Linked DNA regions of Homo sapiens: region 2 is reported to be linked to region 1. The links are microRNA targets in miRTarBase. Many come from high-throughput screens and were not tested one by one. Region 1 holds a microRNA gene; the other region holds the end of a gene's coding sequence.
What was found. The annotated mature microRNA hsa-miR-548ae-5p reads AAAAGUAAUUGUGGUUUUUG and lies in region 1 at 2,702-2,721, shown strand. An mRNA with a match to its seed (bases 2 to 7 or 8) in the 3' UTR can be bound and repressed. Matches are read on the target gene's strand: a 7mer-m8 pairs with bases 2 to 8, a 7mer-A1 pairs with bases 2 to 7 and ends in A, and an 8mer does both.

Region 1 (5,180 bases):
GTCTAGCTTGAAGCAAGGGCTAGAGAGCTCCAAATGAGAAGAAGAAAGGAAGAGAGGGAGAGAATAAAAATTAAAAATGGCAATTTTGGGGAAACAAAAAGCTATACAAAAGAAAGGATATATAGTCATAATTGGTTTTCCTATGGTGAATGATACATTGGTGTAGTAATGTAAATGTTTTGCATTACATTTAACTGCTATACAAAACACAAATGATGATGCTTTCAAAGGAGAATGTAGAAGTTAAAAAATGAAGTACATTTGATAAAGTGTGAAGCCAAGCCAAGCCTTCATTCTGCCAGTCTGCATGGCTGCAGGGTTAATACCACATGGAAACCCCCAAGGCTTACAGCCTGTGTTCTCCAAAATGGCAGCTTGAGCTGCACCTGAGTCCCTTTGACCTTGGTGGGAACAGGAGCTGCTAGCCAGAATGTGGAAAGCAGAGTCCCAAGGCTGTGTAGGGCAGTGGGGCCCTGGGCCTGGCCCATAAACAATTCTTCCTTCCTAGACCTCTGGGACTGTAATATAAGGGGATGCTATGAAGGTCTCTGAAATGCCCTTGAGGTCTTTTTCTCATGGTCTTGGATATTCGTACTTGGCTCCCTTTTAGTTATGCCAATATCACAAGTAAGGGGTTGCATCACAGCCTCCTTGAATTTATGTCCTGAAAAAGCTTTTTCTTTCTTTGCCACATGACTAGGCTGCAAATTTTCCAAACTTTTATGTTCTGCTTCATGTTTACATATAAATTCCAAATTTAAATCATTTATTTGCTCCTGCATCTGAGCATAGACTGTGAGAAGCAGCCAGGTTATATCTTTAACACTTTTCAGCTTAGAAATTTCTTCCACCAGACACCATAAATCATCACTCTAAAGTTCAAATTTTCACAGACCCCCAGGGCATGAAGACAATGCAACAAAATTCTTTGCTAAGGCGTGACATGCATGACTTTTGCTCCAGTTCCCAATAAGTTCCTAATTTCCATCTGAGACTTCATCAGCCTGGACTTCATTGTTCATATCACCATCAGCATTTTGGTCACAACCATTTAACCAGTTTCTAAGAAGTTTCAAACTTTCCCTCACCTTCCTGTCTTCTCCTAAGCCATCCAAACTCTTCCAACTTCTATCCATTACCCAGTTCCAAAGTGATGCCCATATTTTTAGGTATTTTTATAGCAATATCTCACTCCTTGATAGCAACTTTCTGCATTAGGGCATTCTTTCATTTCTATATAGAAATACCTGAGGCTGGGTAATTTATAAGAAAAGAGGTTTAATTGGCTCACTGTTCTGCAACCTGTAGAGTAAACATAGCACTGACATCTGCTTCTGGGGAGGTCTCAGAAAGTTTACAATCATGGTGGAAGGTGAAGGGGGAGCAGGAATCTCAAATGGCAAAACTGAGAGCAAGAGAGAGAGGAGATACAGGTGCCATACACTTAAGCAACCAGGTTTCATGAGAACTCACTCACTATCATGAGGAGAGCACCAAGCCATGAGAGGTCTGCCTCTATGAACCAAACACCTCCTACCAGGCCTAATATGGTTTGGCTTTGTCCACACCCAAATTTCATCTTGAATTGTAATCCCCATAATCCCCACATGTCATGGGAGGGACCTGGTGGGAGGTAATTGAATCACAGAGGTGGTTTCCTCATGCTATTCTCATGATGAGTGAGTTCTCACAAGATCTGATGGTTTTATAAGTAGCTGGCATTTCCCCTGCTGGCACTCATTCTCTCTCCTGCTGCCCTGAGAAGAGGTGCCTTCCATCATGATTGTAAGTTTTCTGAGGCCTCCTCAGCCATGTGGAACTGTGAGTCGATTAAAACTCTTTTCTTTATAAATCACCCAGTCTCTGGTATTTCCTTACAGCAATGTGAGAATGGACTAATTCAAGGCCCTACCTCCAACTTTGAGGAGTACATTTCAACATGAGATTTCAGCAGGGACAAATATCCAAACCATATCAGACATGTTTTCTTTGTACCAAAGATCAAAAACCTATCATCCATGCCCATATGAGTTGAGTCCACCTGAAGCAGCGTCTTTTCCCAATTGACACAAATATTCAATATGTATTCATAGGTGCCTTTAGGTGAAAGTAATGTGAAGGGAAAATAAATCTCGTAGCCCCACAATCACTAAGCTAAAGGGAAAAGTCAAGCTGGGAACTGCTTAAGGCAAACCTGCCTCCCATTCTATTCAAAGTCACCCCTCTGCTCACTGAGATAAATGTATATGTGACTGCCTCCTTTGGAAAGGCTAATCAGAAACTCAAAAGAATGCAACCATATGTCTCTTATCTACCTATGACCTGGAAGGCCCCCTCCCCACTTCAAATTGTCCTTCTTTTGCTTCAAGTTGTCCTGCCTTTTCTGGACTGAACCAATATTCATCTTACGTATGTTGATTGATGTCTCATGTATCCCTAAAACGTATAAAACCAAACTGCTCTGACCATTTAGGGCACATGTCGTCAGGACGTCCTGAGGCTGTGTCATGGGTGCACATCCTCAACCTTGACAAAATAAACTTTGTAAATTAACCAAGACCTGTCTAAGATTTTTGAGGTTCACAGTAATGATAGGGGCACTTAACTTAAAAATGTTAAGAGGTACTATTTATAGGTGAGATAATAAAAGGTTAAAGCATGCGATGTAATGTTACAATGGCAATTATTATTAGGTTTGTGCAAAAGTAATTGTGGTTTTTGTCATTTAAAAGTAATGGCAAAAACTGCAATTACTTTCACACCAACCTAATATTAAATAACATCTGTATATGTAGGAGGTAAAGGAGAGATCATGGATGGTAGTCAAAGTAAGCTAGCACCTCATTGATCACATGAAGACCCAATTAATTATGATATCCCCATATTTAGAAATGTGACAGTATCTATAAAAAGATCTAAAAACTGTTAAAAGTGGTTGCAAGTAGGGAGAGAAAATAGGGCTAGCAAAAGACGTGGGGCCAATTATTTCTTTTTACCAAAAGCTCTTCTATACAACTTGATTTTTAAAAAATGACTTTGGATGTATTATTTTGATAAAGTAGGTATTTTAAAACAGTACAAAAAGTATTTTAAATCACTATATTTTCTCTGAGCAATTTTTTTCTCTTTATTGTTATATTTTAAGTCTAGAAATCTGAAGATTAGAGGATATAGACATAGAGCAGGATCATTTAGTCAACAAAGATTATGTCAGAAAAAAATATGTGAAAGCGAAGAACGTTTAGTGGCAGATTTGTGTAGGAAAGAATAATAGTAAGAGAAAAACACAACAAACAATCTAGACAAAAAAAGGCAGGAAATTCAATTTTTTTTCATGTGATTATTCATGCATTCAAAAGACATTTATTGTGTACTTACTCTATGACAGGTGCTGTGATGATAAAAAAGTTGACCAAGAAATGATTCCAGACCTTTAGAAACCTGTAATTTTATAGGACTGGTAAGAATAGACCCCAGTATGGACAAGACAAGCCATGAAGTAAATATCACAAAACAGGTACAAACATAGTACTGGAAGAGTTCAAAGGAAGGGAATAACTCTTGATGTGACAAATTATTAATACAGCTGTTACTAAAAGTCAGGGAGACATTATAGGACAAGATAACCATGTAATGGCCAAACATCTCTATGAAAAAGAATGTTTTCCTCAATTTTTTAACCAGGGCTGGCTGCAGAATATTTGAAGGCATCTTACAGGCAAATATAAAAATGATTAATACTTTTGAAAATATATGCCAAAATAGTGATAGATGGTAAAAGTTCTCATGCCAGGAATATCTGTTGGACTTTTAAACACTCTTCCCAAACCACAGTCAATATAATAGAAACAATCCTTCTCTAAAGCATCAACTATTAATAAATGTGCCTGAACCAAAAAGTAAATCCAGCTTCTCACCAGCCTCAATGAAAGCATACTTCTGGGGCATCTTCTCTTTTTAAGGCCATGAAGCTTCCCCATGACACTGAGATATGATGTTAAGCAAAATTCAAGGCACCTTTAATGGGGTCAATAGAAGAGTCTTCTAATACAGTAATAATAAATATGGCATCTACTCTAACAACAAGACCAATGGCTAGAATTGTGATGTTGCCTTTCTTTTAACTTCCCAAGTAAAAGCTTCCATTGGTCATTTAATAAGGGTACTTTTATATCCCATTCATTTTTCCTTCTATGTGGATGGAAATTCCTTAGTTCTTCCCTTCCACCCTCTCACTCACTCTTCCAGGGATATTGGTGAGCAGGGAAAGAGAAACTGGACATAAATGTCTCAGGCCCTTTCCTTCTTTTTCCTCTTTAAGATCCAGTTGCTCACAGAAAATCACACATTTTACTTAGAATTTCTAAGCCCAATGTTTACAGGGGCAAGTTCTTACAAGGAAGGTTGGTGGATATCCAGTTGTGTTTGTGACTGGGTGTGTAAATCTTTCAATTTGTGGGTAGAGTATTAGGAAGCCCACTTAACTAACAGGACCCAAAACACATTTCTAATTAACCAATGTCAGTAAGAAATGATGGACTTTACTCTCTGTCTTCCTTATTCTTCTGATCTTCATAATCAATTCATAATTTGGATGAGGAAAGGGATTGGTATTTCTTGACTCCCCTCAAAACCCAACAATTTCTTACCAAATATACACAGGATGAAGCAATAAGCCTGGAACCATCAGAATATTATGTTGCACTAATGATACAATCAGAGCTACAAGCCTAGTTAATTATACATTAAGAGGTCACTCCATTTTTCCTATTCTTCCCCTGCCTTTAATGACACAGACACACAATCTGCTTTTTATTATTCCTGCATACATATATACATAATATACACATATATGTGTACGTACGTTTACATGTAAACTATGTATATATTACATACGATGAAACACTTCAAATAAATAACAAAAGAAGAGAAAATGGTATAGTGAACCCTATATACTTGTCACTCAGCTTCCACAATTAAAATAACTTTAACAAATGACCAATCTTGTTTAAACCACCTTTTCCCTCCAACTTTTCCCATTCATACCACTCACTCCCTATCTCTTCTCTCTGTGACCTCCAGATTCATTGACAGAAAATAGAAAAGTCGGAAAGATGAGAAGGATGAGTCTGGTGGTTTGGATACAAGTAGGCACTAGCTGAACCAGACACAATCCCTGC
Region 2 (5,000 bases), not on the chromosome of region 1:
TGGTGGGATCTCAGGTCACTGCAACCTCCGCCTCCTGGGTTCAAGCATTTCTCATCCCTCAGCCTCCTGGGTAGATGGGATTACAGGCGTTCGCCACTATACCTGGCTAATTTTCGTATTTTTAGTAGAGACGGGGTTTCATTATGTTGGCCAGGCTCGTTTCATATTCTACTCCATTTTTCCCAGTTATATTTCAAAATATTTCAGATACATGTAAATTAATAGGAAAAGAAGTTTAACTTTAGGAAGATAGTAATTTAATTAATGTCATTTTAGCTTTCAGTAATTAACATCTAAAAACCATAAAAAATACTTTTAAAAAAATTGAAATTAAACTGCATTTTTCATTTCCTTGACTCCAATTTGAATGGAAAGTGTGTGTAGAAGTATAGCCATCACATCTGCCCTACCATCCTTCTCCTGTCCCACCCTATCCTACAAAAGATCAGAGAAAGCACAAAAAAAGTTATAAAACAAAATTTATTATGCAATACTTTCTCATAATGAATTGCATCTCTTTGGTAAAAATAAACTTTATAAACATTTTAATAATCAGAGATTAGATACAAAAACTAAGTATTTGTAAGTTGTTTTTAATATGAGCAAAGATTGGCAACTGAGAAGTGGTTCACTTGTGACTGGTCATCTACTGGCAGTTATAACTCAAACCGGGACAATTTTTATGCTACATCAGAAAAGAGGATAAGGAAACAGTTTGATAACAAATTTGTTGAATCAGAAAGCATTCTTACACTTTCATTTAAAAATAAATAATAGTTACAATCAATTGGCAATTATACATTTTTATACACTATATGATGGCAACATAATACTTTAAAATTAAGCACTTAGTTTAATAAGAAATGTACAACGATTTAAAAAATAAGTTTTGACAATGGCACTGGCAGTTAGATGCAAAGAATATGCTTTAAGAAAAAAAATGGCAGGTATAACATTAAAATACTCGAATTCACCTTTCAATAAATATTTTTACTACATCATTAACATACTGAAGTAAACTTGGTTTAAATCAAAGCTTACACATTTCAAACTAAAAAAAAAAAAAAATACAAAAAAACACCTGTAAGATATATGTAAACCAGAAAGCCTCACAGTTTCTTAGATAAATGCTGTGATCTTCACAAAAGGGTGTTAAGTTGTTGTAGTATTTAAGACAATGGTCTTTACAGCTTTGTGAAGTATTCACATCTGTTGCTTAAATTGCTGGCAAAGGCCTCCTGGTCTACCAAGACATATACATTCCCTCCTTAACACATTCTCTAGTTTGACTTTGTGCTAAAGTATATTTAACTGAACATCTAGTATGAGCCCTTTACATAATGCCTCAGAAAGTAGCAAAAAGAAAAAAATATATATATACTAAACTTTACTATATACAAAGGAATCCAAGTTAAAAGAAGTCATGCTGGCTATGAGGACAGGAAAGGCTTGAAGGTGGAAAAAGGGAGGTGATCCACCTTTTCCATGAATTCAGGTAATCTGTTTTCTTTCTCTGAATTTGGAAAAGTAAAATAATAACTGATTTAGTAATATATTGCACAAAAAAACTTCAAAAATATATATTCAAGAAACAGTGATTCTGTTTGGGATGTGAAGATGAACAATTGTGTTGAATCAAAGCTTTTTACTAGGGATCTATTATAAACTGGAATCAGCTGCAACAAAACATATTCTTTTGACGTAAGGCAAATTATATGTTAGCTTATATCACAGTTTTTAGGATATGTTGGAAAACATGTAACCTCCTTGGAGTTTCTAAGTTGACTTTATTACAGGAAAATTTGTATATTATAGGGAATACAATTTCCAGGCCATAGGACTTGGAATGACTCTACTTAATTGTGTGGTTATTAGTCATGTTTCTCAAAACACCTGAGGAATGAGAGCATACTCTCAGTGGAAGTAGTAAATGGAGGACCATAATTTAAAAGGTTCTTCCCTTGAAAATAACTGACTTGGTATGTTAGCAAGTGGAAGGTGATGCATTAAATTATGTTTAAGAAACTGTAAAATATTGTGTAACCTCTCCCTGTTAGCTTTCAGTGCACAAGTGTTTATCATCCTTGCTAGTGATGAATATAACTTAAACATTTAAATTCGTGGGAAGAGTGAATAAAAAGGAAGAGAAAAATCAAAAGATGTAAAGAATTACTGTTACATACATCAAGACAAAATAACTTTGAAGATCCCTATTAGAGCTGGAACTAACTCTGCTTCTCTTTCCTTTCCTTATAAAGAGTAATTATCTAATGGACAAAAACCAGGTAGCACATTTGTGATACAGAATTTCAGCAGAACAAAATAAACTGGTGCCAGATCACTGAAACACTGTTCCTAAGGTCTATACAGAGGCTATGGTAAATAACTTAAAAATAGTTATTAAGATGATGTGTATAATCTATTATTTATACTGTGGTTAAAGCATTTTTGGGTTTTTGGTGTTTTATTCACTGTCTATAATAAAAGTTAACTTGGTTTAGCCATTTTCTGTAGATGTGATCGATCTAAAAAAAAAACCCAAATACCTCATCCTGCATGCTTAAGGGTTTTCATTATTAACAAATTTAAAAATTACTATATTTTGACAGCACCAATTCATTAATGTGGCTATCCAGGTTAAATTAAATTTAACATGGAAACAGAACAGAGAACATTAATACTGTTATCCCTGACTTAAAGTCTTGTCAATTGAAAAAAAAGTTTTTAAAATCATTTTTCTCATTTGACAGTTTTGCCAAAATAAAAATTAAAAGTTAAAATTTGTCTCTTAAAAAATGCTTTATAATCACAGAAACAGCTGAAAGCAAATCAACATCATGACCTTGACTGTGCATATGTGTATATGTATGTGTACATATGTATACAATCTATCAGAATAATGAAAACAAGGTCATTGTCTATGACTTAGGATGTAGCATAAGACTGAACTTTCAGAAAGTTGCTTCCACCATTGTAAAAAAAAGATACAATGAATTAGTTTAGCATCCTATTGTTTCTGAATAATCTAATCAAATTATACAAATGATACTATGAAAAACTGTCTCATATAAGCAGACTGTTCAAATAGTTAAGATACTTAGTCAAAGCACTTTTGGAGTAGTACCAGAAAATCTTTTTCTCATGGATCAATGGCACTATAGGTTGTTACACTGCCTCCTCAAAAAGGTGTATTGCATAAGATCAAATTTTATATGAATTTTGAAATTCATGAAGGTATTGTGTCTGTAAAATTGCATTAAATCTATTAAGATTTAATTTGGTATACTTATGAATTTAATTCATACAAAGCTTGGACAGAAGTTTTTTCCTAAATGACCTACTTTATGTATGATAACATGCCATCAGTACTCAAAATGTTTCATTTCACTCCATTCCGATTATAAGATTCTCATAATACAGTACACATGGCAGGCAAATGAAAGATTCTCTTATTACAAGTGTGTCAAAATGGGTGTACTCCATAACACACTTAATTGGCTATATCCTCTCACTGGATAACTTATACTCAACAAAGGCAGCTAGTGGCTAAAACTTAATGTTTGCAAAGCACTTTGGGAAAGAATAAAAGGCCCCAATAAATGCTATGCAGGATCTCTGAAGTAAAAACACTTCAAAGCTACCATTCTAATAGGAATTGGGAGTGTTCTTGGATGAAATGACACCACAAAATTGTCTTTTCTAAGTCTTAGAACTCTTTGTTGTATTCTCTACCTACGTAACCAAAAGAAACTTTCTAAACATCAGGATGTTTTTCAATTTATGTTTGTCTTTGCTCACACGACAACAAAAAAAAAATTAGAAACAAATTAAGACAAAGTAAAAAAATTTCAATCTTATGTTACCGGATTGCGTGTCAGGAGAGAAGTATATGAAAAATACATCAGCAAAATTTTTAGCTGGTTCAGTAACTATAGTTACAGATTGGAAAAGAAAATGAAAAAAATTTATCGAGTTGCCAAATCTTACATTCTGACATATTAACAGAAGAAAGGATTTTTGTCCCACAAGTTTAAGACAGAGGCTGGGGATTTTCTTATATAAAAATTTTCAAATCTTGGACACATTTATCACAAAAATTATGCTTTTAGGACTTCACATCATGTATTTCTGATCAGGCATGATCCTAACAGCAATTGTTTAATAAAAATTTTAAAAACCAAAAACCAAAAATGTTTTGAAAGAAATAAGTAATTAGTATCCCTTCCCTACCCTAAAACTAATGAAGTCCATTATGGCTTTGATATCCCTTGTAAAGAATTAAGTGAAAGAGTATTGCCACACTTTAAGTATTTCTATTTTTTCCGTTGCTTTTGATTTTGTGTCTTTGCAGTACTTATTAGGGAACCTAAACATGTACGAATTCCAGCAAGGTGGAGCAGAGATCCAGCTGCCTCTTTGAGCTCCTCATCAATTTCTTGACATGTCTGTTTTCGCATCTTTTTGCCTGACTGCCCTTTTTCAGAGATTTTTGCACAAGGCTGTGATGCATAGCCACTGTCTCCAAGAGGATCATCTTCATAATCAACGTCTGTATCTTCTTCACTGTGAAATCCTTCACTGCCATCACTTCCCACGTGACTATTCTTTGGGATAAATTCATATACCTCATCCACAGAAGACAGGGAAGACACGCTAGACCTGGATGCACAACGCTGTGCTGCCATGCTACTTGCACTGTAATTGTGATCTTCTTTTGGATCAATGCTGGTGGCTAAAGAATCACTCTCTTGTAATCGTACAGCACTGGGATGATGAAATGCATTGCCGTAACTCCTCTTTTTTTGCAATGCTGTTTTAAGAGGAAGAGGCTTCTCACCTGTGGAAAATAAAAGTTCCATCAATAGGTCAAATGTGTTTGGTTGCAAAAACAGACCAATTTTAAACTACTACATTACTCTTGAGCAACAAATGTTTTAGATTCATGATGCTTTGTAGATTTTTTATTTTTTTTTACCCAGATCACATCATTTTGCAAGCAT

Region 2: miRTarBase lists FOXN2 as a target of hsa-miR-548ae-5p. Seed matches in the 3' UTR shown: 7mer-m8 at 3,835-3,841, 7mer-m8 at 1,525-1,531 and 7mer-A1 at 1,298-1,304.

The regions. Positions count from the first base shown.
Region 1 is chr5:58,527,626-58,532,805 of GRCh38, reverse strand. MIR548AE2 (microRNA 548ae-2) reads left to right here and starts at 2,697; the gene lies at 2,697-2,763. RefSeq lists enhancers at 1,369-1,977, 1,999-2,500.
Region 2 is chr2:48,374,757-48,379,756 of GRCh38, reverse strand. It overlaps FOXN2 (forkhead box N2), which reads right to left. Exons shown (of 7, transcript NM_002158.4): 7 at 462-4,837. The coding sequence ends at 4,314. Among named protein-coding and RNA genes, the nearest start is that of FOXN2, 63 kb to the right of the region's middle.